4 linked regions of the Homo sapiens genome follow. The protein of the gene in region 2 purifies or fractionates together with the protein of the main gene of each other region. This does not show direct contact. Each region holds a gene or a part of one and is shown on either strand. Other genes may lie near its edges.

The links.
Region 1: the proteins of PPP2R1A (region 2) and TBCCD1 purify together in Homo sapiens (affinity purification with mass spectrometry; 5 studies listed by BioGRID and IntAct, with this or other methods). This does not show direct contact.
Region 3: the proteins of PPP2R1A (region 2) and SLMAP purify together in Homo sapiens (co-immunoprecipitation; 5 studies listed by BioGRID and IntAct, with this or other methods). This does not show direct contact.
Region 4: the proteins of PPP2R1A (region 2) and PRR14L purify together in Homo sapiens (affinity purification with mass spectrometry; 5 studies listed by BioGRID and IntAct, with this or other methods). This does not show direct contact.

Annotation. Positions count from the first base shown.
Region 1 is NC_000003.12:186,564,219-186,571,965, forward strand, and holds the start of TBCCD1 (TBCC domain-containing protein 1), read right to left. Parts: upstream 3,122-7,747; 5' UTR 3,049-3,121; intron 155-3,048; 5' UTR 112-154; coding exon 1-111. Other genes in the region: DNAJB11 (dnaJ homolog subfamily B member 11 isoform 1 precursor), read left to right, coding at 6,680-6,747. UniProt on the Homo sapiens protein: Plays a role in the regulation of centrosome and Golgi apparatus positioning, with consequences on cell shape and cell migration.
Region 2 is NC_000019.10:52,184,835-52,193,295, forward strand, and holds the start of PPP2R1A (serine/threonine-protein phosphatase 2A 65 kDa regulatory subunit A alpha isoform), read left to right. Parts: upstream 1-5,217; 5' UTR 5,218-5,262; coding exon 5,263-5,340; intron 5,341-8,461. UniProt on the Homo sapiens protein: The PR65 subunit of protein phosphatase 2A serves as a scaffolding molecule to coordinate the assembly of the catalytic subunit and a variable regulatory B subunit.
Region 3 is NC_000003.12:57,751,103-57,759,652, forward strand, and holds the start of SLMAP (sarcolemmal membrane-associated protein), read left to right. Parts: upstream 1-5,206; 5' UTR 5,207-5,240; intron 5,241-5,445; 5' UTR 5,446-6,549; coding exon 6,550-6,747; intron 6,748-8,550. UniProt on the Homo sapiens protein: Associates with the striatin-interacting phosphatase and kinase (STRIPAK) core complex, forming the extended (SIKE1:SLMAP)STRIPAK complex.
Region 4 is NC_000022.11:31,711,781-31,719,533, reverse strand, and holds part of PRR14L (protein PRR14L), read left to right. Parts: intron 1-2,242; coding exon 2,243-7,451; intron 7,452-7,753.

The sequences.
Region 1 (7,747 bases), on a different chromosome or scaffold from region 2:
GGATATCTTCCTGAGATAGTGAAGACTAAACTTGGATGGAGGGGGGACCTGCAAGGCACCCACTATAAAGGGTTCTGCTTTCACCCAGAGGAGAACTCTGGACTGATCCATATTATCTCTAAGGACATCAGGGTGAAAAGGCTTCTTTGCATACCTAGGAAACAAAGTTTCTTCATAAACTGATTTGAAACAAGTCTCATTTATGCATTTTTTCTTGGAAGGTGACCCCTCTCTCTCAACTGTGTCATATGTACTACATCATCATCTTAAAAGGCAGCTCTAGTTCACCAACCAAGAGCAGAACAGTTTTTTTAATCAGATCTCATTATAATCTGAGAAAAAAATTGTGATAAAACAAAATTATCTTACTTGAATTGTTAGAAATCCTTGTTTTAGGAAGTGTGTGTAGATGCATGAAGTCTGAGTGAGATCCCAGGAAGAAAATGAATGAGGGGAAAAAAGTCATCCTATCACAGGAAACCTTTTTCTACTCTGAGGGGGAACACTGTTCAAAATAAGGGAAATACATTTCACAGAGTTAAATCACTTACACAGAAGACAGTTGGTTAAAGATCTGGACATGTTAGCTGAGCATATAAATTCAATATGAAGTGCTAATGTGAGGCAGCAGGCAAGAATGCTAATGTAAATGTAGACTGCAAGAATAGATCAGGAGAAGTTACAGCATCTTTATTCTCTATAACAGTGAACCCACTCTAGCATATTTGATCCTGCTCAGTTCAGGTGTGATTTTTTAGATTTTTTTTTGTTGTAACAATGATACATGATTTTTATGGAATATTTATAAAATACAAAAACAGGGAACCATCCACAATCCCACAAGTAAAGGGCAACAAATTAATATTTTATTGTATTTCCTTCTTCTTCTTCTTTTTTTTTTTTTTTTTTTGAGATGGAGTTTCCCTCTGTTGCCCAGGCTAGAGTGCAGTGGCATGATCTCAGCTCACTGCAACCTCCACCTCCCAGGTTCAAGCGATTCTCATGCCTCAGCCTCCCCAGTAGCTGGGACTACAGGCGTCCACCACCACACCTGGCTAATTTTTGTATTTTTAGTAGAGATGGGGTTTAACTATGTTGGCCAGGCTGATCTCAAATTCCTGACCTCAAGTGATCCCTCGCCTCAGCTTCCCAAAGTGCTAGGATTACAGGCTTGAGCCACTATGCCTGGCCTCTTTGTCTTTTTTCTACACATAAATTAGATGTTAGTTTTTGAATTTTCACAGTTGTGATGTTACATACACAATTCTGTACTGTTTCAAAAGCTTTATAGTATTCTAAATAAATGTATCCCATTTTATTCAACTCTTCTCCCATTTTTAGACACCTTACTAGGTTTCAGATTTTTCACAAAAACAACATAGGCAAAATACTGATCATTATTGAAGTGGGGTAATGGGTACGTGGGGGGCTCACTGATTCTATTTTTGTGTATGTTAAAAAATTTCATTACAAAAGTTCAAATGTTGTCACAAGTGTAAATAATGCTATCACTACCATCTTTCTTCATATTTTCTGCATTACGAATTATTTCTGTGTGAAAATTTTCAGATGTACTTTTGTGAAATTAAGTAATTGACATTTCTAAAGCTTGTGAAATATATCCTTGTTGCTTCCAAATGATTTTATCAAATTGTACCATCCTTTGACTCTGGTACCTACTTCACTGTGCACTCCTCAACATTAGCAACATCATTTTTTTAAAAATATAAAAACTAATTTAAAAAATCAATTATATGACTGATGAAAATTTTATTGCTATTATTATATTTTGCATTTGATTCTAAGAAAACTGTGCTTCTCTCTTTTTTTTTTTTTTGAGACGGAGTCTCGCTCTGTTGCCCAGGCTGGAGTGCAATAGCTCGATCTCGGCTCATTGCAACCTCCACCTCCCAGGTTCAAACGATTCTCCTGCCTCAGCCTCTCAAGTAGCTGGGATTACAGGCTCCCGCCACCACGCCAGGCTAATTTTTGTATTTTTTTAGTACAGACAGGGTTTCACCATGTTGGCCAGGCTGGTCTTGAACTCCCTGACCTCAGGTGATCCGCCTGCCTTGGCCTTCCAAAGTGCTGGGATTACAGGCGTGACCCACCGCACCCGGCCTGCCAACTGTGCCTCTCTCGAGAATCATCTGTTCGGAAAAATAACTGACATCAATCGAGTGCTTACTATGTACCAGGTATCATGCTCATGATTTTGCATACTTCACCTCCTTTCATCCTCACAACCACCTGGAGATACAGTACTTAAGACTGTACACATTTTCGATGAAAAAAAAATGAGGCTTAGCGAAGTTAAGGGATTTCCCTAAGGACACCTACTTAGCTGGCACAGCTCTAGATTAGGATTCAGGTCTGACTTGAGAACTGCATTACTATAAATGTACTCTAGGAATCCAGTTTTGGGAGAATCTCTTAAAAACGGGAGTGGATCCAGAAGAGAATTTCCAGAATAAAGAGTCTTAGACAGGAAGCCAGGTGAAAGAACCAGGGAGAGTAAACTCAAAAGAAGGGCGTGGAAGGGCAAAAGGCAGCTGTCTTCCAATGTGGAGAGACTGGAGTCGTTTTGAGTAAAACCAGACGATAAAAGTTAGGCGAGGAAGACCTCGGTTCTCTCCAAAATGTAAAGAGGCTGCTCTGTGAGGTACTGAGCCCCTGTCAACAGCCAGATCCCAGAGATGAGCCCTCCATTCTAACTCCGAGAATCGAGAGGGCTCAATCCGTAAACAAACATAAACTGGGGCTCTGACCCTGGCGGTGCCCTGAGGTTAAGGTTTTTCAGGTCGGGAGATCGGCGTGGGTCCAAGGCGGCTGTCCTGGGGCTTCGCCGCCACCTTGGACGCGATCCGGGGTGGGACTCTGCGTGGGCCGCCCCAGCGTCGCGACCGGACTTCAGGAACACAGACGCTCACGCTGACAGGGTCGGTAGCTGACCCGAGACGCGGTAAGCGCGAAGGCAGCCTCCTCGACCCAAGCCTGAAGCCTGACTAACCCACACCGCCCTCCCCGGCGCACCCAGTGCGCGGTTACCTGCTAATGCAGGCGCCGCTCCGCCGCACTTCTCCGCGCGCCGCCGCGCCCGGCGTCCGCTCGCTGGGCCCGCCCCTCACCCTCCTCCGCGCGCCGCTGCCGTGCCCACTGCGCAAGCGCGAGGCCCCGCACCACCGAGACCTGGCGGACCCCGTTGCTAGAGCGGCAGATTGCGGCTCAAGCGTCTGAGAAAATCTAGGCTGGGGTCGAGAGTCCGCAACAGTGGCACCTGGAGCCAGACCCACCGCTTTCTGGTGTCGCGCCTTTCAACCCGGGGGGGTAGGAAGCTTTCTGTTGCTCCGCATAACTGTGGTCAGCTAATAGCTGCTGGTAAGATCAGCACGCTTTCATCAGAAATGCTACTAATACTAATGGCAGTTTGCATTTATAGAGCACTTACTATGGTCTCAGCACTGTGTAAAGCAACTTTATGTGTATTTCCTAAGTCTTGTCAAGAGCCCTTTAAGTACATTCGTTTTACTGATGAAGAAACTAGGGCCTAGAAAGGTGAAAATAACACAACCCTAAGGTCACACAAGAGATGGAGCCAAGATTCAAGCCCAGGGCGTCTGAAGCAAGACTGGCACTCCCTGCCGCCCCTCGGTGTCAGCTCCTTAACTCTGTTAGCTTTCCTGCCGTGTTTCCACCTTCATGAAGCTTTTTCAGATTACCGGGCAGAAGCCATCACTCCTTCCTTTAAACTTCCATTTCAGAATTTCTGGACATTTCCTGCTTTTTTTAGTTCCTTTATGGCCTCTCTAGGTGTGATAGATACAAAGGTAAATTAGACCGTAAAATGCAATTTAGTTCCTCTTTTGTGTGGCCATTGTCCCTACTGGGTATCTTCCTGAAAGCAGGGGCTTCAAATTTACACATACCTGGGTTAGGATCCAGGCTGCACCACTTATTAGCTCAGTGACCCTGCTGTTACTTGTTGAGTACCACTGTGTGTCTGGCACAGTGGTACGCACTAGAATGACAGAAGTGAACAAAACAGACAAGGTCCTTGCTTTCTTGGAGTGTATAACAGGGAGAATAGACAATACATATTAAGGAATAAAATAAGATAATTTCAAATAGTGAAAAATGCTATGAAAATTGGGGCGGGGGGTCAGGGAAGGCCACTTTGTGGTGCCAAATTTGAGCTGAGGCCTGAAGAGTAAGAAGCCAGCCATACAATGATCACCATCCCAGTAACTTTGACTCAAAAGTACTTCAGCACCTACTCCATGCCAGGCACTGTTCTAAGGTGCTCTTTTATACAGCTGTGAACAGAACAATATAGATTCATGCTCTCATGAAACTGGCATTTCAGTGTGTAAGTCTAGGGACCAGGGATGAAAAAAATAGGAGGCCGGGCGTGGTGGCTCATGCCTATAATCCCAGCAGTTTGGGAGGCTGAGGCGGGTGGATCACTTGAGGTCAGGAGTTCGAGACCAGCCTGGCCAACATGGTTAAACCCAGTCTCTACTAAAAATACAAAAAAATTAGACGGACATGGTGGTGTGCGCCTGTAGTCCCAGCTACTCGGGAGGCTGAGGCAGGAGAATCGCTTGAACCCAGGAGGCGGAGGTTGCAGTGAGCCAAGATCACGCTACTGCTCTCCAGCCTGGGCGACAGAGCGAGACTCTGTCTCAGGAAAAAAAAAGAAATAAAGAAAAGAAAACAGGGTGGTGTAAGAGTAAGGAACTCAGTAGGGGCTAATTTTGATTAATTGGTCAGGGAAAGTCCTCCCTGAGGTGGCGACCTTTAAGCTGATATATGAGTTAAAGAAGGAATCACCCATGCTAGCACATGAGGGAGAGTACAGTGTTTCAGGCAAAGGCAATAGCTAGCACAAAGGCCCTCGGCAGGAATGAGCTCGGTGTATACAAAAAAAAGAAAGGAAGCAAGTTTTGCTGGAGCATGGTTAGGAGTATAATAGGTTTACAAAGCATAAACGGCTTTGTAAACTAGCATGGAGTTGGGATTTTATTCTAAGTGCAAATGAAGAGCCATTCCAGGCTTTTAAACAGGGGAGTGACATGATTTGACTTTTATTTTTTATTTATTTATTTATTTATTTATTTTGAAACGGTGTGTCACTCTGTCGCCCAGGCTGGAGTGCAGTGGCAGGAACTCGGCTCACTGCAACCTCCACCTCCCAGGTTCAAGCAATTCTCCTGCCTCAGGCTCCCGAGCAGCTGGGGTTACAGGCGCTCGCCACCACACCTGGCTAATTTTTGTAGTTTTAGTAGAGACAGGGTTTCATCATGTTGGCCAGCCTGGTCTCAAGCTCCTGACCTCAGGTGCTCCGCCCGTCTCGGCCTCGCAAAGTGCTGATTACACTTTGGGTGGGTGAGCCACCGCGCCCGGGCTTTTTTTTTTTTTTTTTAAATCATGGAGTGAGGGACAGGGATGAGCAACATATATTAAGATATTAAGGAAGATATTAAGAGTGGGGGCAAGGAGGCCAGTTAGGAGGCCCTGGCCAGGTGAGAGATACACTGTGACCCAGAATCCTGGTAATGGAGATGTAGTGAACAGATTGAAGTATAGTTCAGAGGTAAAGAGTTGGATAGCTTATGCATGAAAGGAATAAAAACACCTAGAGCTTTGTCCTGATCAACTAGGTGTTGTGTAACTGCGATGAGCAAAATCGGGGGGAAGATGGGGAATCAAAGAGTTCTGCTTGAACCGTAATAATGGTTTTTACTCGTTGCCTGCTTACTATACGCCCGATGATTTACCGATTTTTTTCCCTGTTAAAATTCACAGAACTGCCAATAAGTGCTTTGCCTCAGTTTTGTTGATAAACTTAGGCTCAGACTTGGGAGGAGGGGAGGGGTGGGGGGTCTCACCACTAAGAAGCGGTGGAAGCCGAATCCGAACTTAAGTCGGTCTGTCATCACTGTAGCCTTTCCGAGACAGTTGTCTTATGGAGTTGCTTGGAGAACGTAAAATAAGAGGCCTAAGCAATGCGTCTGATGTACACCTGTCGTGGAATAACTGTTCCCGCTCATTCGGCCGCTGTACCTCTGCTCCCTCATTCGGAGCGTAGCTGGGTATGAATGAAATTCCGGGCTTGTAGCACAGAGAAAACTTCTCTCCCACAATTGGTTGGTGCTGGGGAGGAAGCTCCTGATTGGTGGAAAGTCCGAGGAAGTGGGCAAGCCGGAGGGATTTCGTGTACCTCAGGTGCCCTCACTCTGACCGGCCCCCTATCATTACGTAATTTTCTACGACTCGCGGTAGCTCAGGCAGAGCGGGTTCCTGCAGCGGCGCGACCCTCTGACGTCTCCGCTTCTAATTGGTCAAGAGCTGCGACTGCAGTTCTGAAGCCTAACTGGTTGCCCGTGCCGCCTCGGAGGTGAAGTGTACTGCGCTGATTGGCTTCCAGGCGCCGGCCGCGTGTGATGTCCCGGGCAACGATTGGCTCTCGCCTACCGGGGGCTTCTCTCACCGGGACTCGGGACTCCCGGGAAGTGGACCGGCAGAAGAGGGGGCTAGCTAGCTGTCTCTGCGGACCAAGGAGACCCCCGCGCCCCCCCGGTGTGAGGCGGCCTCACAGGGCCGGGTGGGCTGGCGAGCCGACGCGGCGGCGGAGGAGGCTGTGAGGAGTGTGTGGAACAGGACCCGGGACAGAGGAACCATGGCTCCGCAGAACCTGAGCACCTTTTGCCTGTTGCTGCTATACCTCATCGGGGCGGTGATTGCCGGGTGAGGAACAGACACTCGCAGACAACGGGGCCTGTGGGTCAGCCTTTGCTGGGGGGTGGGAGGGGGTGGGGGAAGTGGCATTGCCAGACTGACGGAGTGGAGAGGGGCATCGCTGTGGGTTGGCGGGGTGGCGGAGGAAGGGGTAGTATGGGCCAGGCTAGTGGGGTGAGAGGAGAACCGTGGGTGACACCAGTGAGAGGGCCTTAGGTCCAGAGAGGGTCTTAGGTAGAGCTAGATTTGCCCAGAGGAGTGGGAGTTGGATGCATTGCCAAACGGCATTTGGGGGATGAGGGAAAGAAGGTGGTTGCGAGCTGAAGCAGTGTCACGTAGAGCTGGGGAAGAAAGAGGGATGCCTGACTGTAAGGAAAGATAGTGACAGTGCCAGGCTGAGGTTGAGGGGATGGACGTTTGTTTGATCAAAGAGGTGAGTTGCTGTGCCCCGCTGAGGTGGAGAAGCGGACGATGCTCTATGCCAAGCCTTCGAAGAGCCATTCTGGGGCTGACATTAAAGTGGGTGGATGATGCCAGCCCGAGTTGGGACTGAACGAAATTGGATGCGGGATGGGAACAAGAAGATCTTTAGACAGCCCTTGTACTTCCCAGCTTCTTGAGCTATTTATTATCTTAAGTTGCTTCATCTTTAACATTCTGGCAGTGCTACTGTTAGGACATTTATGTGGCATAATCTTTTTAAAGAAGGAAAATCATCCTTTGAGAGTGTTATTTGACTTTTAGAAAAGTCAAAATCATTTGGAGCCAGTATAGGGAAAGGGGGGAAGAGTTAATTTGATTATATGGTTATTGCCTAAAGATAACATGAGACCATAAAATAAGGAAGTGGTTTTCTTGACCGAAGGTGGTTCTGAAAGAAAAGTGCCACAGATGTTTTGAATAATCCGAAAAGAAGTATATAGCCTCTTACTGTGATTACTTCAATATATAAGATTCATTACAAATTCTGGTGTTCTCTCTTTAGTCATTCTTTGTGTGTGTATGTGTC
Region 2 (8,461 bases):
GGAGAATCACTTGAACCCAGGAGGTGGAGACTGCAGTGAGCTGAGATTGCACCACTGCACTCCAGCCTGGACGACAGAGTGAGACTCCATCTCAAAAAAAAAAAAAAAAAAATGATGCTGAAATTGCTTTTTTTTTTGAGATGGAGTTTTGCTCTTGTCACCGAGGCTGGAGTGCAATGGTGCCATCTTGGCTCACTGCAACCTCCGCCTCCCAGATTGAACTGATTTTCCTGTCTCAACCTCTCCAACAGCTGTATTTTCAGTAGTAAGGCCTTGGGAAGGTCATTAGGTCATGATGGTGGAGCCCTCATGAATGGGATTAGTGTCCTTATAAGAATTCTGTCAGACACAGTGGCTCACACCTGTAAGCCCATGACTTTGGGAGATCAAGGAGGGAGGATCAGTTGGGGCCAGGAGTTTGAGACCCTGTCTCCACAAAAAAGTAAAAGTAAATAATTAGCTAGGCATGGCGGCGAATGCCTGTAGTCCCAGCTACTCAGGAGGCTGAGGTGGGAGGATTGCTTGAGCCCAGGAGTTTGAGGCCGCAGTGAGCTGTGGTCATGCCACTGCACTCCAGCCTGGGTGACATAGTGAGACCCTATGGCAGGATCTCACCATTTTTTCCTCCAAAAAAAAAAAATTGTTAAAAAAAATTCCAGTATTGTGCAGTAGCTGGATGTTTCAAATTTTAAAAAGAAGAAAATAAAAAATAAAATAAGAGTCTTGATAGAACTTGCTTCTCCCTTCCACCATGTGAGAAGGACACAGCTAGATGGCACCATCTACGAATCAGAAAGTGGACCCTCACCAGACGCTAAATTGCTGGTGCCTTGATCTCAGACTTCCTGGCCTCCCAAACTGTGAGAAATAAGTTTCTGTTGTTTATAAGCTACCCAGTTTATGGTATTTTGTTACAGCAGCCTGAACTAAGACACGTTGCAACTTCCACTTTCCATTCAACATATATCGTCCCCATTTCTCTTACTCCATACATACAGATCTAAGTGGTTTTTATGAAAGTTCTTTAATAATCCATAGTTGGTATGTCCGATATTTTATGCAATAATCTATCAAATAGTGGACTTTCCTATTTTACATATGTAGAAACTGAGGATCAGGGCCGGGCACAGTGGCTCACACCTGTAATCCCAGCACTTTGGGAGGCCAAGGCGGATCACTTGAGCCCAGGAGTTCGAGACCAGCCTAGGCAACATAGTGAGACCCCCGTCTGTACATTTTTAAAATTAAAAAAAAAAAAGGCCAGGTGTGATGGCTCACGCCTGTAATCCCAGCACTTTGGGAGGCCAAGGCGCACGGATCACCTGAGGTCAGGAGTTTGAGACCAGCCTGACCAACATGGAGAAACCCCATGTCTACTGATAATACAAAAATTAGCTGGGCATGGTGGCGCATGCCTGTAATCACAGCTACTGGGGAAGTTGAGGCACGAGAATCGCTTGAACCTGGGAGGCAGAGGTTGCGGTGAGCTGAGATCGCGCCATTGCACTCCAGCCTGGGCAACAAGAGTGAAGCTCCATCTCAAAAAAAAAAAAGGAAACTGAGGATTAGGAAAGCCCAAGACCCAACATCAGGAATGTCTCCTAGTCCCAGAATCTCTTGCATTTGTACACCCCACCCCACTATGAACTCAGGCATAGTAAAATAATCCAAAATCCCCCATCAAATATTTTATATATATACATATATATGTGTGTGTATATATATATATATACACATATATATGTGTGTGTGTGTGTATGTATATATATATATATATATATATATATATATATATATATATATACATACACATATATATGTATTTCTATTTTATTTTAATTTTTTTTGAGACAGGGTCTTGGCTGTTGCCCAGGCTAGAGTGTAGTGGTGTGATCATGGCTCACTGCAGCCTCGATCTCTTGGGCTCAAGTGATCCTCTTGCCTCTGCCTCCTGAGTACTACAGGGATATACCTGATGTACTACAGGCATGTGCCACCACTCCCGGCTAAACTTTCTTTCTTTTTTGCAGTGACAGGGGTCTTGCTATGTTACCCAGGCTGGTCTTTACCTCCTGGCTTCAAGCAATCCTTCCTCCTTGGACTCTCAAAGTGTTCAGATTACAAGCATGAGCCACCACCACACCTGGATTGTATCATTATATTAAAGCTGAGTTTTAGTCAAGCAAGCCTTTGGAGTCAGACTGCCCAGGTTCAAATTCCAGCACCCGATGAGTGGGGTGGCTCCTGTTTGTAACCCCAGCACTTTGGGAAGCCAAGGCAGGTGGATCATTTGAACCCAGGAGTTTGAGACGAGCCTGGGCAACACAGTGAGACCCCAGGGGTCTCTACAAAAATTAAAAAATTACCCGGGCATGGTCACACATGCCTTTAGTCTTAGCTACCGGGCATTGGGGGGGCCGAGGTGAGAGGACCACTTGAGCCTGGGAGATCAAGACTGCACTGAGCACAGAACAGATTGCGTCCCTACACTCCCAGCCTAGGCAACAAGGCAAGACCCTGTCTCAAACAAACAAACAAATTCCAGCACCACTATTACCATCTATGAGAACTTGGACAAATTCCTAAAGTTCTCTATGCCTCGGTTTCCTCATCCATTAAATTAGGATGATGCTGCTACTTTACATATATCATAGAGTTATTGTCAGGGTTAAATGAATTAATTTACTGAATACACTTTACTGTAGCTATTATCACTGGCATTGATCTGTATAGGTATTGATTTGTATAGGTATTGATCTGTATAGGTATTGATCTGTATAGGTATTGATCTGTATAGGTATTGATTTGTATAGGTATTTGTTAAATACTTATTAAAGTTTGCAGTTTTGTTTTGCATTTTGGAATCCATAATTTGTTTTTATTTTGTTTCTGAGATTTATAATGCCTCATTTAAGCCTCTGAAAATTCCTAGGCCCTAAGCACTTCAAAGGCCACCAGCCCAACATCCCAAGCAGCCTGACACCAAGACAGGCACGCATAGCTAAAAAGATCCCTAGCCTCAGAGACCTTGGGGCTGAGAGGAGTCCTGGGAATAGGGAGGGCTGGGACTGAAATATTCAACCCCATCCCCACTTTTATGAGCAGCAGTTTCCTAACTGCAGTGGGTAAGGGTATTTGAAATAGATGCTGGGCCGGGCACGGTGGCTCACACCTGTAATCCCAGCGCTCTGGGAAGTCCAAGTGGGCGGATCACCTGAGGTCAGGAGTTCGAGACCAAAGACAGCCAACACGGTGAAACCCCGTCTCTACTAAAAATACAAAATTAGCCGGGCGTGGTGGCTCATGCCTGTAAATTCCAGCTACTCCGGAGGCTGAGGCAGAAGAATCGCTTGAACCCGAGAGGTGGAGGTTGCAGTGAGCAGAGATTGAGCCACTGCACTTCAGCCGGGGCAACAAGAGCGAAACTCCGCCTCAAAAAAAAGGCCGGGTGCGGTGGCTCACACCTGTAATCCCAGCACTTTGGGAAGCCAAGGCAGGCAGATCACCCTGAGGTCAGGAGTTTGAGACCAGCCTGGCCCAAAGTGGTGAAACCCCGTCTCTACTAAAAATACAAAAATTAACCGGGCGTTGTGGTAGGCGCCTGTAATCCCAGGTACTCTGGAGGCTGAGACAGGATAATTGTTTGAACCCAGGAGACAGAGGCTGTAGTATGCCGAGATCGGGCCCCTGCATTCTAGCCTGGGCAACAGAGCGAGACTCCGTCTCAAAAAAAAAAAAAGAAAAAGAAAAAGAAGAAAAAAGAAATAGATGCTGTGGGTATTCAGATCTGTCAGAGTGCTAGCTCAGCCTAGCCCTTCAAGTAGCAGAATAAAGGAGGAAAGAGCATCCCAGGCCTTCCCATCCCCATTCAACTCCCTCAGTTAGAGTGGTCCTAAGATTGCGGTGGGGGGGTAGGGCTGTGTTGAAGAGGTTAAAAACAGAGATTAGTCAGATCCAATCCTGCTCCCACTCTATGGAGGAAACAAATTCGAATACATAGTCACAGCCCAGGCTCTGGGATTGAGAGACAGAGAGAGAGATTGGATTGGAGAGAGAGAGAGAGAGAGATGGGATTGGAGAGACAGAGAGATAGATGGGACTGGAGAGACAGAGAGAGGGGTTCTGTGGCTCTGGAAGCCTAGAGAACAGAGCCTGAAGACAGAGAGGAAAGGGAGTAAAGGGGAGGCATTTATGCAGAGATCTCAGAAGTGAATATGAAAGGCACCCCTAGCAGAACGCACAGCTTGGGCAAGGAGGCTTGCTGGCATGAAAACGCAAGAAGTGCTCAGGCAGCTGTAATTCTCCAGGACATCAGATAAAAGGTAAAAAACAGATGGGAGACGCGCCTAGACAGGGTATTGAATACCAGCCCGAGGGGCTTGGGTTTCATCCAAACAGCAAGGCAACTGAGCTCAACACAGTGAGACTCGGTCTCCACAAACATTTTTTTAAAAATTGGCCGGGCCTAGCGGCGCGCGCCGATAGTCCCAGCTATTTCTGCAGGCTGAGGCGAGAGGATCATTTGAGCTCGGGGAGGTCCAGGCGGCAGTGAGCCAAGATCCTGCCACTGCACTACAGTCTGGGCAACAGAGCGAGACCCTGTCTTTAAAAAAGTAAAAAAAAAAAAAAAAAAAAAAGAAAGAAAAAGAAAAAAGAGAGAAGGGCAAGTCGCTCCCTTCTCTGGGCCTTGGCATAAATCAAGCACAAATCAAAGTCTCACTCCCTCCTCCTGCCGCGCAACGGCGCGGAGAGCCAGCCAGCCAGCCAGCGGAACCACGGCCTGGTAACCCAAAACCTGCACACCCTCCAGCTCCCCACAGGACGTCACGTATTACCACCGACGCACGCGCAGAAGCCTTCCCGGGGACTCAAGAAAGGGCAGGCTTAGCCTCCTCCCCATGTCGCCCCTCATTGGCTAGAAACTACTGCTCGTCTCGGTCGTTGTTAGCAGCGACCAGGGCGGGTACAATCTTGGTCGCTAGGACACGGCTAACTTCCGCTTTCTTCCCCCTCTCCTAGGCTCAAACTAGTCAAATCTTGTTCACTCGACCAATGGCAAATCGGAAGTGGGCGGGACTTCACAAGTCCGGACCAAAGAAACGCGAGCTTAGCCCTGGGTAGCGCGGCCAATGGCCGTGGAGCAGCCCCTGTAAACTGGCTCGGGCGCCCCCACGCCCGCCCTTCCTTCTTCTCCCAGCATTGCCCCCCCCACGTTTCAGCACAGCGCTGGCCGCAGTCTGACAGGAAAGGGACGGAGCCAAGATGGCGGCGGCCGACGGCGACGACTCGCTGTACCCCATCGCGGTGCTCATAGACGAACTCCGCAATGAGGACGTTCAGGTCCGGAGGCTACGGGGGACTTGGGGAAGACGCGGAGGGGTACCTGGGGGCACGGGCGGCCCTCGCGGAGAAGACTCAGCGTTCGCTGGGAGTGGCGGAAGGGGGCGACGGCCAATCAGCGTGCGTCTCTTATCTCCCCGGTTGCCCGGACTCCTTGAGACGGCGCTCCCGATTGGGTGTCGGCCCAGTGGAGGGCGGGGGCCAGCGCTAGCCTCGAGGGTCCCGGGCCTGCCCTGTGCGCGCGGCGGTCCGCGGTCCTGGGAGGTTGTGGCCAGGGCTGGGGTCTGCGGACTGGGTCTGGGAGAGAGGAGGACTCCGTGATTGGCGGCGGCCTCTGAATGGCCTCTTGGGGATGTGGGGCGCGCATGACTTGCTCCAAGTAGGGGAGGGCCGCCGGGTGGGTCGGGACCTGGGAAGGTTTTTTTGTTTTCTGGGTTTCGACTGCTGGGCCAAGTGGGGACCGAGAGGCGAAGGCCTGCCATCCTAATTCCTGCTCTTCCTCCGCCTCTCATTTTGGTTTAGGTGTCCTAAGAGGACGGGGACGCAAAAACACCCCCCCACCAAAGGTGGGGACTAGCCAAGTTTAGGAGCGAATTAGGTTGTAGAAACCCGCCTCCCCATCTCCCCGGATCCTCCCATTGACCAGGATAGGGGTTGAGGGATTTGCTAAGCAGATGAACATTTATTTATTTCTTTTTTTTGAGACAGTCTCTGTGTCGCCCAGGCTGGGGCTGGGGAGCAGTGGCGCGATCTCGGCTCAGTGCAACCTCTGCATACCGGGTTCAAACCATCCTCGCCCCTCAGCTCCCTAATTAGCTGCGATTACCGGCGCGAGCCACCACGCCCGACTAATTTTTGTATTTTTAGCAGAGACGGGGTTTCACCATGTTGGCCAGGCTTGGTCGGGAACTCTTGACCTCAAGCGATCCACCCGCCTCGGCCTCCCAAAGTGTTGGAATTACAGGCGTGAGCCACCGCGCCCAGCCCGGATGAACATTCCTGGTTATGGGATGAGGTGACCCAAGGCTCTGAGCCGGGCTGGTGTGGGATTGAGAACAGTTAGAACTGCAAGTCCACCTCCCACCTGCTGTGTGACCTTGTGCAAATTACTTCACCGCTTTGGGTCTCTGTGTTCCATAAAATATGGGCTAATTGTAGTCCTGGTCTTGCTGGAGGGACTTGTGAGGGACTGAACGAATTATGACACAAATAAAAAGTAGAATGGTGTCAGGCCTGTTGTAAGGGCTCGATAAATATTAGCTGTAATTATTGGGAGTGGTGATTAAAGAGGTCCCATCCTCCCTTTAGGTCTGTTTTCCCATTTATAAAATTGGACAAGGTGCACTGGGTAACCTGCCAAACGTGGGTCTCGCCTCCTAGGTTCCTGGTATATCACTGTTTCTGGTGGCATACAGGTTGTGGTTGTATTCCCGGCCCTTCCACTTGTTACTGATTGACAAGGGCAAGTTAGTTAATCTCTCTAGGCCTGTTTCCTCTTCTCTTTAATGGGGTTAATTACCTAGTTCATAGGGCGGTTGTATGAATTCTTTTGTTCAGTAAATATATGCCATGTATGAGATATGATGCTGGGGATATAGTGGAGACACCAGTTGCTATACAGGATCCAGATGTGAAACAGGTCAGCAGAGCTGAATAGATGAGTGTTTGAAAAGTGATGGGAAGGAAACAAATAGGATGTAGTGGTAGCGAATCCATATTGAATTGGGCCTCTATTCTGTGCAGGGCGCTGTTCTAAGCACTGGTATATAGCAGGAACAAGACAGAAAAAACTCTAGGCCTTGGGGAGTTTATTTTGTAGTGAGGAGAGACAGACAATAAACAGAGTATACTGGGGATAAGCATTAGGGAGACAAATAAAAATAAGAGAGATGGGGTATATATAGGGCATGCAGTTTTAAAGTGTGGTCAGGGGAGGCCTTGTTGAGATCCTGTTTGAGAACACGCCTGAAAGCAGAGGGCACAGCAAGTACAAAGTGGGGTGGGGCAGATCCATTTTAAGAAGGCCAATCAGGCAAGGCCCCTCTGAGGATGCAGAGTTTGAGAAGAGATTGAAAGAAGGTGGGGGAGAGCCTCCCAGGAAGAGGGAACAGATATGTAATGGCCTTTTTTTTTTTTTCTTCTTTTTTTGAGACGGAGTCTTGTTGCTCTGTTTCCCAGGCTGGAGTGCACTGACGCGATCTTTGCTCACTGCAACCTCCACCTCCCGGGTTCAAGCAATTCTCCTGCCTCAGCCTCTTGAGTAGCTGGGACTACAGACGCAGGCCACCACGCCTGGCTGATTTTTGTGTGTGTGTTTTTAGAAGAGACTGGGTTTCCCGGTGTTGGCCAGGCTGGTCTCAGACTCCTGATCTCAGGTGATCCTCCTGCCTCGGCCTCCGAAAGTGCTGGAATTACAGGCGTGAGCCACTATGCCCGGCCAGTTTTTTGTTTTTTTTAACTCCAGGATCACTTCCTTCAGCTATCTATCCTCCCATCTTTTCATTCATCCATCCATCCACTAACCAGCAGACATTTGTAGGGAGATGTCTTTGTGCCAGGATCAGAGCTAGGCAGCTTACCGGTTTATTCTAAAGAATATTGCAAAGGATACAGATGAAGACACATGCAGGGTGAGGTGTGGGGGAAGTTGTGTGGAGCTTCCATGCCCTCCCTAGGCATTCCACCCCCCAGGAACCGCGAGGTGTTCATCTGTCTGGAAGCTCCTATGGCTGCTTTTGTGCTACAGCCCAGAGTTGCATGGTTGTAACAGAGATGGCCGCAAAGCTTCAAATATTTGCTGTCTAACCCTTTGCAGGGAAAAAATTGCTGACCTCTGACTTAAACCATCTGCGTAACAAATTATTGGGTGCTTGCTCTATGTTAGGTACAGTACAGAGGAATATCACTGACGATCTTACTGAATTCTCACAATCACTCTTTGAAGTAGGTCCTGTCCTTGTCCACATTTTCCAGATGAGGAAACTGAAGCACCATAAATAACATGGCCAAAGCTGTGCAGCTGAGAAATGAAGGAGCCAGGAAAGGAAGTAGGACCTAAGGGTGGAATAGAATCTGGGGTGGGACACACGGTTGCTGATTATATTCATATGCCAGACATTTT
Region 3 (8,550 bases), on a different chromosome or scaffold from region 2:
TCTTAGAATAAAGTATGTACTTAAAATATATTTTTATGTGCCACACTTGCAGGGAATTATTATATATACATATGTTACAAATCATTTGATGAGCAAAGCCATCGTATATAGAGTCTCTGATATTTTACTTGGTAACTAAGTTATTTGGAAACAAATCCAGATATACCAATAAAAATTCAGAAAGAAAATGCCTCATGGGGTTTTCTGACCCAGCCCTTTTACTCTTAAGCATTTGCTACATTCCAAGTAACATTCTCAAATTAGTTATAAAAAACAAGCAGATACTTCCAGTAATCAAAAGGGGACTTATACAAGAGTGACAAAAAATAGCATAATTTCTTCCCTTCCTCGTCCCCGTGCCCCAATACAGGCCTTTTGCTATTGATATAAATTATTTATCACTTTTAAGAATAAGGCCCTTAGTGTTGACCTTCCCACTTCTAATAAATGTGGTATTTTTAAAAGGGCATGCTTCATGTGGCTTAGAATAGCATCTGGAAGAATACAGCTAACAAATTGTTAACAGTAGCATTAGACTAAGTATTTGTGATGGGGCTAGAGAGGACTTTTACTTTCCTCATTTTTGCTTACCTGAATATATGCAATGAGCATGTGTTTCTTTTATCAATCAAAAAAATCAGTCGGGGCCGGCATGGTGGCTCATGCCTATAATCCCAGCACTATGGGAGGCCGGACAGGAGGATCACTTGAGCCCATGGGTTTGAGACCAGCCTAAGCAACACAGGGGATCCGAGGTATACAGAAAAGAAAAAATTAATAAACAAAAATAAATTAGCTGGGTATGGCGGTGGCACATGCCTGTGGCACATGCCTACTAAGGAGGCTGAGGTGGAAAGATTGGTTGGGCTGGGGAGGTTGAGGCTACAGTGAGCCGTGATTGTGCCATTGCACTCCAGCCTAGGTGACAGAGCAAGATATTGTCAAAAAATAAATAAATAAAAATAAAGATAATTTTTAGAAAGAAAAAACCCCAGCATGTACTTTGGATCTAGCATGGTGACTTATTTTCAGTCACTCAATCGAATATTAAGATTCTTAATGTTTTTCTTAATGTTTGAGCCTGAGCCTTAGTTTCCTTACTTACCTATAAAATAAGGTTAATACTTAATACACAGAGATGTCATGAGGAAAATGCTAACCACATGGTAAATACACAATCATTAAAGTTCCTTCTCTGAGCCTCAATTTCCTTGCCTGTAAAATGTGGAAGCTGGATTTGTTGTCTATGATTCTTTCTGGAGTTATAATATTGTGATTCCCTCCTTTTATATTCACAGAAAAAGGTTGCTAAATGAACTTAATGTCTTCATTTGTCTTCAGGTAGTTACTTTTCTTTTATTTCCTGAATAACCAGGAAGCCACAAACATATGAGCAGTGCCTCTGGAATGTCTGGGCTACTCCACCCTGGGCACCTGGGAAATGACAGGGTATTTCCACTCATTAGAATCTCCCTGATGAAGAGAGCTTTCCTTAGTGGGAAGAGGACCTAACTTCAGTTGTAATAAGCCAGTGTGTGCCACTAAAAATGTTATATACTCTCAATTTTGGGCTTTGAGTACTCCCAGCTTTCTCTTAATTGGTTTGCTTACCTATATTTGCAATCCAGGTACTCTGCTGAAACAGTTATGCAAGTGTTCCATAATTTATTATATACCAAGTGTATGTCATTGGTCAAAGTCCAATTAGATCATTATTAATTAGAAAGGGCTGCTTATTAGTAGAGTTTACAGAGTTGTCTCCTACACATCAGAAATGCTAATAATTGCCCATCTTTGATGGTACTAGGATGATAATTTTACAAGTCTGTCTTTGCTTTTATAAGATTGAAAAGTGGCTTGGATCATAGCAGTGGCAATACTCATCAGACTATAAAAAGGCAGAAACTTAAAAAGGGAGAGAACTACAAAATCAGGAAACATTGCCATTCCCAATTTCTCAAAATATGACATGTTTTTTATTTAATAAAAATTTTGTGTGGATACAGAATCACAGAGAGGAACACCCACATGACTTAGAATTCAAAGTATCTCATGTATGAGATTTCTTAATTTAAGCCTTTTCTGTGCCTGCTGAATACCAGTGGGTGAAGAATGCCTTCAATGCCATTTTGGCATTTCTAGCACCCTGTGTAGCTTGATAGGATTCTTTATCCTGACATGTTATAGTAGTCCCAGCTTTTCTTGTAGAAGAAAGTCCACTCTGCTTAACATTAATTTTAAGAGATATTATAGTAGAACTGAATATAAACAGACTTTTTTTGTTTCCATATGTATGATTAAGTTTCTCTATATACAAACTAGAGATAAAACAACTTGCTCCTTACTATATGTGGAAGGCTGGGGGAATTCTTTCTATGAGCAATAATGATAAATATTAACATTCTGTGAGTGTCTACTATTTCCCAGCCACCATGGTTGGCATTTTGTATTCCATTGTTTTATTTAATCCTAAGAAGACTCTGTAAGGTATTATCTACCTTTTTCCTTCCCCCTTCCCAACCCCTTTTTTTTTTTTTTAAAAAAAAGACTAGTCAAGTGCAGTAGATATATGCTTTTTTTTTTTTCAGATAAGGAAGCTGAAATTTAGGGAAGCTAAATAATTTACCATTTATGGTGCTGGTAAAAGTATGCCATGTCTGATTCCAGCACCTTGACTTTCATTACTTCTCTTTGATCTTCTAGGAGGAAGATGGAAATGTTCTGAAGTCTGGTGCATTGCCTAGAAGTCCTTCAGCAACTGAAACCTCACTTCTGTCACTCTTTCTCCTCGTTTTCCCTTATCTCTTATGCTCTGGTGATACGAACCTACTTGCAATTCCCTTAAAGTCCTGTTCTCTCAAGTCTCTGGACTTTTGTTGGGATTGCTTCTTAGCTTAAAATTTCTTTATCCCAATAGCATCAGACTAGCTGTTCTAATCCTTTCAAGTTTCAGTTTAAACTACTCTGCCATGTTTCCACTACTCTTGACATACTCCATTACAGCAAGGATCTTTCTGTGTCATCACCTAAATCGAGCAACTTGAGGGAGTCTTTTTGTTTCTTCATTATTGTATTTCCAGGACCTTTCAAAATATCTATTTCACAGTATCAATTAAATGTTTATAGAATGAATGTATGAAAGAATGCATAAATGACTTGCTATTCGTGCAAAAAAAACTCATTAGGGATCTGTGGAGGGTCCTATCTTATTTTATTCCTTAACAGCCTAAAAGTTATCAGAAGTGAAAACTTTTCATCCTCTCATAAGAAAGCTTTCCAACATATCCTCATTTTGAATAGCATACCTGGAACACAGTGGTAGCTTGACACATATTTGTTGAATTGATGAAGAGCTTGAAAAACGAATATAACGTCTTTATTATATAATGCCTATTCTTTCCAGACTCACTTTGTGTCCCGCCTACTTTATCCTCTAATAATGAGTAACAGTATGTAATTTTCATTCATGCATCAAATACTTATTTATCCACTATTATGTGCCGGCACATTGGTGCACTGTTTCAAGTAGGCTCCTTCTTTTCCTTGCTATCCGTGTTTGTGGAAATTCATGAAACCATTCAGCGAATACCATATTTATTGTGGTTTTCCTATCTTCCTTCATTCAGTTCAGTTACTTCTCCCAGACCATCCCTGACCCCTTGGGCAGCTAGTGCCTGCCTCTATCTTAGCCCTGATTACATCAATTTCATGTTTGTCACTCCCTACCCTCATTTCTAACCCACAATACCGTTATGATCTCAGAAGGCAGGAATTGAAGTTTGGTTCAGTTATGTGTCCCCAGGGCCCAGCAAAAACCTAGGACACGGCCAAACTGTCTATATAAGTATTGAGATGAATAACTGCTACTTTTTCTTTCTTTCTTTCTTTTTTTTTTTTTTTTTGGAGAGACAGTTTCACTCTTGTTGCCCAGGCTGGACTGCAATGGCGCGATCTTGGCTCACCGCAACCTCCGCCTCCCGGGTTCAAGTGATTCTCCTGCCTCAGCCTCCCAAGTAGCTGGGATTACAGGCATGCGCCACCACGCCCGGCTAATTATGTATTTTTAGTAGAGACGGGGTTTCTCCATGTTGGTCAGGCTGGTCTCAAACTCCCGACCTCAGGTGATCCGCCTGCCTCGGCCCCCCCAAAGTGCTGGGATTACAGGCGTGAGCCACCGCGCCCGGCCTAATTGCTACTCTTTATTGAACAACATGGATTAACATTTTGAAGTCTCACCACATCAAGTGAATTAACTATTATTAACATGTCATCCATGAGAAAAAAGAGGCTTGAAAAAGTTTAGAAACTTGCTTAAGGTCACACAGTGGTGGAGCCTGTTATTGCAGGAATCTGAAGAATGAAGTCACCTTTGATTCTAAATGAGTAAGTCTCCTTCTCACTATTTTTTCTTAAAGTTTTCATTTAGCCCTTGCAAAGTCTTCCTTCTTTAGACCAATGACTCCTCATCTTGATATTGTAAGTGGGGGAAATACCCTCTTTTTTCACTTTGGAAATTATTCAATCTCTCTTTGGAAGAAACATGATTTTAAACTTTCTGGACGCTCCTTCTGTGGAAGAATCCGCGCAGGAGCCCTGGGGGCACATAATAGGTTCAGTGAGAAAGACTGTCATTCGAAATGGAATGCGGGAACTAAGATTTTTTTTTTCCGGGAAGAAAACATAACGAATTTAGCAGAGGGGAGAATGGTCCTTCTGTTAGGTGCACAAATCCTAAGACTTCAGGGAGTTTGGCGGCTCACACTTAAGGTAGCTGCGGGTGACTGTGTTGCCCACAGCTAAGATGGCTGCTAATGACCATCTCCTTTGGCTGGGTCTGTTCTTTTGCTCGCTAGTATTTTCATCGAGAATTAAACAGAATAAAATTTAGTAAAAGTTGGCACCCCCTTGCTAAGTAGATAAAATAAGAAGGTGGCACTGTTTGTTTGAAAAACCTTCTACGGCGCAAATTGTTCTTGCCCTTAACCAAAATGGTCGTTAAGGTTGTCCCGAGGTTTGAAGCTTCCAGCCCTTAACTAAGATGGCGCCTGGAGGCCCGTTAAAAATTACCTTGCCCTTTTTTCTGCCCTCTACCAACACGGCTTCCGTGGCGTCGTTCACGTGACATTCCTGGACTACGGCGCGGGAGAGGGGGTAGGAGGGCCCTTGAAGGGTGCGCGTTCCCGTGGCGGTGCACCGGGTAGGTTTCAGTCAGAGTCACTATGGCGGCCGGCGCTGGCAAGGTAAGCTGAGGCGGTGGTGGCGGCTAGGGAGGTAGGACCCGTCGTGGCGTCCTGGCTCCAAATCCTCGTAGCCTGCTTGCGGAGAGGTCGGCGGAGGTCGTGCCTAGCGGTGTGGGCTGGCGGGGGTCTGGCTGGAGGGGGCGACGGCTGAGGCGGGCGGGCTGAGGCGCCTGACGGCCGTTTGTTTTGATGTTTTCCCCACCAGGTCGGAAAGTTTCCTGCCTCGTCGGGCGCAGCTTGAGCTTGCCCCATCGGCCGCGATCGGTGGAGGCTGCGGCGGATCCAGCCCGGGGCCTCAAGGCCTCTCCCCAACCTCCGGGCCAGTCTCCCTCCCCCACCTTCTCGTCCGCCGGGAGCTGCGGCTGCCGTCCCTGAGATGCGACCCTCGCGGGGGCGACCCTGAGGGGAGGCGGCCCATGTGCTGAGCGGCGGCCCAGAAGCCTAGGCGTCCGGGGACCAACTTCCTGCCGCCTGGGAACTCGAGCCTCCCGGTGTCGCGCCTCGCTCGGTCCGCACCGGCCTGCGGAGCCGGGTCCCCGCCCTGGTCGCGGGGACGCTCGCCAGGTGCCCAGGAGTCCCGACTTGGCCACTGCCCGCGCCCCGCCGGCCTCCACGCCTCGCGCGGAGAACCTCAGCCACCGCCGTCTCGGATCGTGCCAGGCCGGGGACCGCGTCCCCCTTCCCGGGGCGGCCTCCGCTCAGCAGGGGCGATGCAGACTGTCCCGCCGGCCGTCTAGAGCCCCTCCGTCTCCGTCACCTCTCGCCCCTTCACTCCGGGCGAGGACTGGCGGTGGCTGCCCAGAGGTGCCCAGCCACACCTTCCTTCGGCCCAAAAGGACTTTCCTGGCCGCGCCGAACCGACCCTTCATTCATGCTGCAGTGCTGCAACGTTTCCGCCACCAAGGGGGAAAAGCGGCCGCGATCTCAAACCAAACACAAGAATTGGCGTGTGACTCATCTGCTTGGATACCTCCAGTCCCCAAACTGTGTTCCAGGAGTTTTCTTGGCCGAAGCTGCCCGATGTTTGAGCCTTTTCTTCCCAGAGAAGAAGATGGACTGAAAGCTGCCAGTTGGGGACTTTTTGTGATCACGGCGTTGCAGCGTTTTAAAGGAGGTGATGGGGCTTGCGCTGGCTTGTCTTCCCACCCAAGTGAAGAGTTGATGTTCACTGGTTATGCTTAGACAATGTGCAGTTTGTGTTAATTTAAAATTTTGGGTGGGATAGGGGCATAGGCTTGTGAAGGGCAGTCCGGATCCGGAGGAACTCCTCTTTGTCCCTGGTAGGAGAGACACCCCCAGTCTATCCTCGATGCCGTCAGCCTTGGCCATCTTCACTTGCCGCCCGAACTCGCACCCGTTTCAGGAGCGTCATGTCTACCTGGACGAGCCCATCAAAATCGGCCGCTCAGTGGCCCGCTGTCGACCAGCGCAGAATAATGCCACTTTTGATTGCAAAGTGCTATCAAGGAACCACGCTCTCGTCTGGTTTGATCACAAGACGGGCAAGGTAATGTCACCACATTGTCCAGCGGCATTGTTTAACAAACTTTTTTTCCCCTTTTGCCCTCCCTGAGAGGACTAATGTATGCAGGATCCCAGGGTTTGCATCCAGAGGAGGCTTTGCGCAAAGCCACGAATCAACTGTTTGTGTGCCTGGTTCTAGTGGAAATTTGATTGAGGTGGTTGAATGGAAAACAGAGAAGGTATTGTAATTAAAAGCCTCAGGAGGGCTATGGCATCTTGATAACGTGGTCATTCCCAGTGAAATCCCAAACTAGATAGTGAAACTTGGCGTCTTGCTTTTAGTCTGTTTAGAAAGGTGAATTCACAGTTCAGCGCTTTATTAAGCAAGCAGCAGTTCTCGAAGCAATTCGGGGAATCCGTGGCCATTATTATCCCGGGGCTCAAGTGTCTTAGTGGTGAAATGTAGTTAACACATAGCTTTAGGTGAGTTCAGATCAGGACCTTTCTAGTAAGGATAATTGCTGATATAAACCTAAGATTTTTGAAAGGTTTGATACATACTTGCCCTTGGAGGAGTAATTTGCAATAATCAAAGCTAATTTAATTAAGCATGAACAACTGTAACTTTATATATTTTCAGAGTTTTTTTTACAAGTTGGAGAACATACACATATTGCGTTTGAAAATCACTTTTTGATGTTCCCTGCAGCACTTATTAAGTACTTAATGCATACTTACAGAGGTGCTATTCAAAAGTTAGTGTTAGGAAATAAACTTACTTTCTGAAATTATACCCTATTCTGTCAATTATAGCATTACTTAAATGTGATACGATGAATTCAGTGCTTTTCATTTTAAGCGTAACCAATTTAGTATTTTTATGTTAGTATCGTAAGTTACTATACATGTATGTGCTTTTATTTTAAGAAGTGAAGAAAGAAATTAAGATCCTTTCCATTTTTAAAAACTGTTTATTTATGTTTGTGGAGAGTATACTAAAGAGCTCATCTTTGTGCCTAAACCTCAGGTTTTTAGCTGAGCTACTGAATCAGTTCCAACTTTAAGTTATGTAAGACTAATAGGACTGTCTCAGGTTTCACCTCCTGACTTTTTGCCCCTCTTTCTGAGTTAAATAATTAAATCTTTCTTAAAGGAAGAACTTAAGTCTTCAAGAATATGTTTTGAAATGAAAGAAACCTGAGCCTCAAAAGGAAGAGAAAAAAATGATACTTCGGCAGCTACTGATTTAAGGAATTATTTTGTAAATTATTTTTTAAAGAAAGGAGGAAAAGATTGTCCAAGTGCTGTGTGCTGCATAATATCTATACTTTACGTGTAGGATGAGAACTGAAGAGTATGTTAACTTTTCTGTTTAACACCAGATCCTCATTTACCTGTGGAACAGACCCTTCACTCGCTCCTCGCAAGCTGAAGTTAGGGTGCCTAAAATACTTCATAGATTACTCGTAATCCTTTTTTTTTTTTTTTGAGACAGATTTTTGCTCCTGTCACCCAGGCTGGAGTGCAGTGGCGCTATCTCAGATCACTGCAACCTCTGCCTCCCGGGTTCAAGTGATTCTCCTGCCTCAGCCTCCAAAGTAGCTGGTATTACAGGCACACGCCACCATGCCTGGTTAATTTTGTATTTTTAGTAGAGACAGGGTTTCACCATGTTGGCCAGGCGGTCTTGAACTCCTGACCTCAGTTGATCCACCTGCCTCAACCTCCCAAAGTGCTGGGATTACAGGCGTGAGCCACTGCACCTGGCCCTCATAATTCTTTAAAATGAATATTCATAGAACTCATTTTTCCAGCAGTTGAATTCAAACATCAGTTTACTACTAAG
Region 4 (7,753 bases), on a different chromosome or scaffold from region 2:
CCAGGCATTATGCTGAACTATAAGGAAGAGAACAAAACAAGATCCTTACCCTCACAGAGTTTACATTCTAGTAAGAATTAGATTTTAGATTTTTTGTTCTTTTTTTTTTTTCTTTTTTTTGAGACAAGGTCGCTTACTCTGTTACCCAGGCTGGAGTGCAGTAGTGCAATCACAGCTTATTGCAGCCTTGACGTCCTGGGCTCAAGCATCCTCCTGCCTCAGCCTCCCAAGTAGCTGGGATTAAAGGCACACACCACCATGCTCAGCTGATTTTTTTTTTTCTTTTAAATTTTTTGTAGAGACAGAGTCTCCTTGTGTTGCCCAGGCTGGTTCAAACTTCTGGGCTCAAGCATTCCTTCTGCCTCAGCCTCCCAAAGTGCTGGGGTCACCATTGTGAGGTACTGCATCAAACTCAGGAATTAGATTGTTTTGTTTTGTTTTGTTTTGTTCTTTGTTTTTTGAGACAGAGTCTTGCTCTGTCACCCAGGCTAGAGTGTAGTGGCATGATCTTGGCTCACTGCAACCTCCGCCTCCTGGATTCAAGCGATTCCCCTGCTTCAGCCTCCCCAGTAGCTGGGATTACAGGCATGTGCCACCATGCCCAGCTAATTTTTGTATTTTCGGTAGAGATGGGTTTTTGTCATGTTGGCCAGGCTAGTCTTGAACTCCTGACCTCGTGTGATCCATCCACCTCGGCCTCCCAAAATGCTGGGATTACAGGCATGAGCCACCATGCCTGGCCGATCTTTAAATAGATTTGCATTTTGCTTTTTCTGTTTAATACAGTTGTCCTGTTTTTTATATATATATATAAAATCATGTGTACATATACCCATGTTCATGTGTATAGTGTGCTAGTCAGGGTTCTCTTAGGGGAACAGAACTAATAGGAGATCACCTGAGGTCGAGAGTTTGAGACCAGCCTGGCCAACATGGTGAAACCCCGTCTCTAGTAAAAATACAAAAAAATTAGCTGGGCAGGCCGGGCGTGGTGGCTCACGCCTGTAATCCCAGCACTTTGGAAGGCCAAGGTGGGCGGATCATGAGGTCAGGAGATCAAGACCATCCTAACATGGTGAAACCCTGTCTGTACTAAAAATACAAAAAGAAATTAGCCAGGTGTGGTGGTGGGCGTCTGTAGTCCCAGCTACTCGGGAGGCTGAGGCAGGAGAATGGCATGAACCCGGGAGGCGGAGGTTGCAGTGAGCCGAGATTGCGCCACTGCACTCCAGCCTGGGCGACAAAGCAAGACTCTGTCTCAAAACAAAAACAAAAACAAAAACCCCCCCAAAAAATTAGCTGGGCGGGCCGGGCGTGGTGGCTTATGCCTGTAGTCTCAGCACTTTGGGAGGCCGAGGCAGGCGGGTCACCTGAGGTCAGGAGTTCGAGACCAGCCTGGCCAACATGGTGAAACTCCGTCTCTACTAAAACTACAAAAATTAGGCGGGCATGGTGGCGGGTGCCTGTAATCCCAGCTACTCAGGAGGCTGAAGCAGGAGAATTGCTTGAACCCAGGAAGTGGAGGTTGCAGTGAGCCAATATCGTGCCACTGCACTCCAGCCTGGGCGACAAGAGCAAGACTCCATCTCAAAAAAAAAAAAAAAAAATTAGCTGGGGGTGGTTGCAGGCACCTAGAATCCCAGCTACTCAGGAGGCTGAGGCGGGAAAATTGCTTGAGCTGAGAGGTGGAGGTTGCAGTGAACTGAGATCGCACTACTGTACTCCAGCATGGGCAACAGAGCAAGACTCTGTCTGAAAAAAATAAATAGGTAAATAAATAAATAAAGTTTTAGGTATAGTTGTTTTTTTCCAAGGACTAATTTTATCGATGACATCTAATTTCAAGTACTGAGAACATGGTCATCTAGTAAAATAAGCTGTTATTGTGAGTCTGCTTTATTAATGTTTTAAAATGAAAGCCTCTTAAGACTGAATGAGAATACAACATAGGAACATATTTCTATGTTGTATTCAGTTGTCCAGCATTGATCTGTGAACTCTGTATTAAACTTTCAGCAAGAGGCATTTGTTGAAAATTACGTTTCTGCCAGATATAGTTTTGGCCCTCTGTTATATTTTCAGAGAAGAACAAAATCAATGGTATAGCATGCTAACTTTCCAGTTTTCTTTTTGAGTTGGGTCTTCTGTTGCCCTTGGTAGCATAGCATAATAAAATGCATGAAGGTAGACCAAGTGATTTTTTATTACTGCATATTAATTTGGATTTATTTCTCTTATTCAGAAGGAAATGTACAGATTACAGCTGAAACTCTGCTAAAATCCGCCGAAGTACAAGGTATGAAGGTCAATGGGACTAAGACGGATAATAATGAAGGACACAAAAATGGCAATGTGAGTAAAGATCTCTCAGCTGGATGCGGTGAATTCCAAGAAGTAGACAAAATCATGACCAGTGATGAGGTTTCAGAAACCAGCACATTAGTTACCCCAGAACCTTTAACCTTTGTGGACCCTGTATTAACAGAAGCAACTCCTAAAGAAAAAGAATGTGAAGAATTAAAAAGTTGTCCTTGGTTGTCATTACCAGGAAACAGTGCCATTTCTAATGTGGACAATGGGAAGGAAGAGTTGTGTAAACCAAACCTGGTCTGTGAAGCAGATGACAATCACCAACAGCTTCATGGCCACCATAATGAACAACCCAGTTCTACACATGATAGTCCCACAGCCACAAGCCCTTTGAAAGAAAATTCTGAAGTTTCATGTTTCACATCAGACTTGTCTGGTCCAGAATCCAGAACAATATCCTTAGAAAACTGTGGTTTTGAAGGTGGTGGTTTGCTAAAGAGATCTGCTGAAAAGACAGACAGTTCTTATTTTTATAGGGGGGATGATCAAGGGAAGAACTTGGCTTCTAGAGAAGAAAATGAGGAACGGCTTTTGATTCCTAGGAGTGAAAGAGGTGGACCTTTTCTTTTTAATGCCAGGGAACCAGAAAAGGAGATTAGTGGTCGTTGTTCTGGTGAAAAAGAGCCTGTTGTTTCTCCAAAGGAAAATATCCACAATAACTGCATTCAAGACAGTCTCCATACAGGGAACTCTAGTTCTTTAATGCCCAATTCTTTTACTGAAGCCACAGAAGTAATGTTAAATAAAAATGATTTGAAAATTACTGTACACGTTCAAGGTAACTTGACAAACCCTGAGGACCATAAAGAAACTTTTACTAATATGAGCCATCCTGGTGGACACTCTGAAGAAAGCAGTTTTTCCTCCTTGATGCAGATTGAAGAGGCAGGACAGACAACCCCTGTAGAGCCCAATATATTAAGTAAATCTTTTTACACTAAAGACTGTAACTCCTTAGTCAGCATCCAGAGAAATCTGGAAGGCAACACCCAGTTAAATGAAGCATCATGTAATGATTTTCTGTTTGAAAGAAAATCCATTGTGAGTTTAATGCCAGAGGATCAAATAAGTCCTGTAAGTGAGGTATTAAAACCCAAGCAAGGTACTGCTCTGTTGCTACCATCCCCAGAATTTGATTACAGACCTGAGTCAGAAAAAGTTATACAGACCTCACATGATGATATTCCACTTTTAGATGAACAGAGCATAGCCTGTGAGATGAATGAACTTTCTTGTACCAATGAACTGGTTGTAAACAAAGTAGAAAGTGAATGTGTTTTAAATCAACAAGTGTCCCTTAATTCTCAAGAACATGCAAATTTGCCAACTGACTCTCTACTGCATTTAAACAAAGAGATGCCTTTAGCAACAGGCAGAGATGCCCATCAGAGCCATCACCCTCCATTAGAGGGTAGAGCAGATGTCATTGCTGATATACAAACCATTCCCATTCAGACAAAAATAAAAGACATCTCTCCACCAGGTAACCAAACCTGTGGTGCCTCTTCAAACTGTCCCACCTTAAACATCAAACCAGTAAGCCTAGAGAGAAAAAAGGAAATGGCTGATTCAGGAACAAAAGCTCTACATTCCAGGCTGCGCTCAAATAAGAGAGAAGCAGCTGGCTTTCCTCAAGTGGTCTCTGTCATAGAATGTCACAGCGTTCAATCTCAGGATATCTCTAGCTGTCATCGTGTAAGAAAAAATGTATCCCAGGAAAACATGTGTTCTGCTTCTGCTGCTTTCAAGTCCAGCAAAATCAGCCTGCAAGTTGATAACTCTTTGATAACAAAATATGAAAATGCATTTCAGCACCGTGATCACTGCTGCCAAGGAACAGGACACTCTGTGGAAAAAAGCAGCTGTAAAGTGAGTTACACATCACAGGAAAGGGAACTTGATGGGAAAGAAACGAATGGCAGCCTTCCAGGAGATAAGATCAGAAACAAAATGGTAGCAGGCTTGTTAAATAGTGGAATTTCAAACAAAACCATTCACACCTCCAGTAGCATCAAACTCAGTGAGGAAGGGCTGGAAGGAAAGGAGCAGGATGTATCCAAAGAAACTGTATTTTGTAAGTATAACATCTCTGATCATGCTATACAAGAACTAAACCAGACTGTAAACATTCCAGGTCCTGAAAAAGTGTTGGACCAGTCTCCTACTGTTATGTTCTCCAGTTTTAAAAATGTAAAATCAGTTGAAACACTCGATCAGAAGGCAGATGAAGTCCTTGACTGTCAGAGTAACCAAAACAGACCAGATGAATGCAAAAGTGAAGGTCAGTCAGCCAAGGAGATGCTAAGTAGTGACCAGAGAGAGACTGTCACCGAGCCTCACGGGGAGGTAAACCACAACCAAAAGGATCTGCTGGTCAGCTCAGGCAGTAATAACTCACTACCTTGTGGTAGTCCAAAGAAATGCAATTTGAAAGGAGCCTTTGTCAAGATGTCTGGTTGTGATGAGTCCACAGAAGGTATGGTAGACATCGTCTACACGGACTGTAGTAATAAGCTTGCAGAAGGTGTGCTGGACGTGAAGGCATCTAATCTACTGGATTGTGGTGCAAGGCAAGAGAAACTGGCATTTCAAGAGGACTCCAGGAGTACCTTGTCTCGGAGAGAACTGGATGCTGCACATACAGGAACAACTGGTCAGGATTCAGATTTCCCAGTTACTGCTGCTTCTACAGTGGACTTTCTCAAAATAAAAAAATCATGTGAAGAAAACGTATGCAGATCTTTAAAAGACTGTGAAATGGAAAAGTGTCCAGACTCTTGTGCCCATGAGATGGAGTCTGTTGCAGATCATGAACCAAATAAAAGAATATTGGGCAGAGTAAATTTGTCTTTAAATGATAGCCATTATGGACAGCAAGATAAAGGAACATCTCTCAGAGAAACACAAGAAATGACTGAAGGATCAAGACTAGAACCAAACTCTGAGTTTGGCAAAGAAAGTACCTTTGGAATTTCCTCAAAAGAGTCGATGTCTTGCCATGATGAAAGCTCTGTTTCCCTAAGAAGCCTGAAATCCATTGAAATAATGCCTTCTCAAGAAAATTCAGAAACTAATGTTAACAGTGAAGAAACTGACCTGAAAAATCTTTGTAAACCAAAAGATGGTGAAATGCTTTGTGAAAATGTAAAGGACTGCACAGTCCTTCCTGAGATGAAGGAAATAGTATCAAGAGATTGGAGTAATTCTAGTGACAGAGACAGCGTATGTACCTGTGTGGAAAAGAATGCTTGCAAAGCTTGTCACCCTCACGAGAATTCCTCTGACAGACATTTGCCTTTGACAGTGAAAACAGATATTAAAGTGAAAGGAGAAGAAACCGAAGAGCATCAGAGGGGACGACTGGGTTACTTAACTGTTGGGGAGCAATCTGAGGAGTTGGTTACCAGAGAAACTGGCGATGGCGATCCCGTGAGCAACATCTCTCAGACCCATTTTAAATGCCGGGGGATACTTAATCATGCTGAAAAACAGCAGAGCCCTGAGGTTTTGGACTACATGTTGCAGAAAGAAGAGAAATATATACGTCAACAAAAAGCACATACGATATCGCAACAGTGCATATCATCTAGTCTGTTGTTAGATGATGCACAAAATCAGAACCAACCGAAGGCTGACAAAGATGAGTCCACCATGATCAATGAAATCACCCTAGCAAAGCTGGCCAAGGACAGCATTGTGGCACAGACTCAGAAGTTAGAAGACCAGAAGGAGGAAAGGTTACATCATCCATTAAGGAAGGACACTGAGTCATGCACAAGTCCTTGCCTTCTTGGTGCCCCTCGGAAAGCACAAGACCCCTCCTCTGCTGGGTGTGATCAAATACATGGTGCCTTTGCGAAGAAAGGAGTTCTTCCCTTAAAGAAGCAGCCCCATCGAACTTGTAAGAAAGTTTCCTATCAGGAGCAAATCATTGTTGGGAGAAAAATAGGTAAAATCAGAAGTTCTGCCTTTTTAAAGAGTTCTTCCAATCCCATCCCCACAAAAGCGCACAGACTTCTCAGTTTGTGTACTCTGTCTGCACCTACACGATTAGAACCTGAAACAGCACCTACCAAGAGCTTGGTTAGTCACATACCAAAGCAGATGTCTACACCGTGCCATCCCTTGAGGAGCCTGAATTTTAGGAAGACTACCAAAGAATCAGCCTTACTAAACAAGCTGTCCATCCTTGCCTCCAAACTGGCCCCAGCCATGAAGACTCAGAAGCTAAGATACCGACGGTGTTCCTCTGAACTTCTTCCAATGGCTAAAAGCTACAAGCGCCTCAGATATAAAAGACTCCTGGACGGATTTTCATCCAGCACAGAGCAGCTGAATCCATATTTGGCAGCTAGTGGATGGGATAAGAGGCCTAACAGTAAGCCCATGGCACTTTATTCTCTCGAATCCATCAAGATGACCTTCATAGATTTGAGCAACAAGATGCCGTCCCTGCTGTTTGGTTCTGAAATCTTCCCAGTATCCTTTCATGTGAAATCATCCAGCTCAGATTGCACGACTGAGTCCTCAAGGACTTTTCCTGAGCACTGTGCTCCGGCAAGGCTTGCCTTAGGAGAGGCCCTCCAGTGCCCGTCTCAACCTCCCAAGTGGACCTTTTCTTTCTTCTTGTCCCACGGTTGCCCTGGGATGGCAACATTCAGGGAAGACACTGGCGTCCATAGTCAGACCCACACTCAGGCTCCTCCCCAGCCTCCAGCTCCTCTCCAAGACTATGGAGGCACTGCCATAGTCCAGACCAGAGCAGACTGCTCTGTCCTTGGCCTTCACACACTTCTAGCACTTTGTTCCCCAGGATGTTACCGAATCTGGACAAAAAAACGGAGCTTCTCCAGCCACATGCCTACCATGCAGAGGCTCTTCATGACCCAGTTTACACAGGGCCTGAAAGGGTTACGGTCTCCAGCCTCCATAGCAGACAAGGTCTTCTGTTCTCTGCCCTACTCGGTGGGCAGAGTCCTATCCATTTGGAGCCAGCATGGTCCTTCTGTCTGCTCCTTCGAAATCTCTTCTCTTCATTCCCCTCACTGCAAGCGGCAACCAAGTCTGGGCACCACAAGCAGGTAAAATCTGTCCCCTGTTCTTTACAAATGTCCCATATTTGCTTCCTGTCTCTGGGGAGATGAGAGGGGAACTGCGGGAAATGCAAGGCTATTTAGAGTCCTCTTGGGTCTGCATTTTCTATTTACCTTGCGAAATCTCTGCTGAGAAAAATCCAATAGTAATTCTTAAGCATAGGACCCCCACCCCCTGCTCAGTTTTCCTGTAGAACCTACTTCTGTATTTCACACCATTCTTTTTTCTGTCCATTTCATTCTTCAAACCATCAAATCTGTTGAATCTTCTTTTTTTTTTTTTTTTTTTT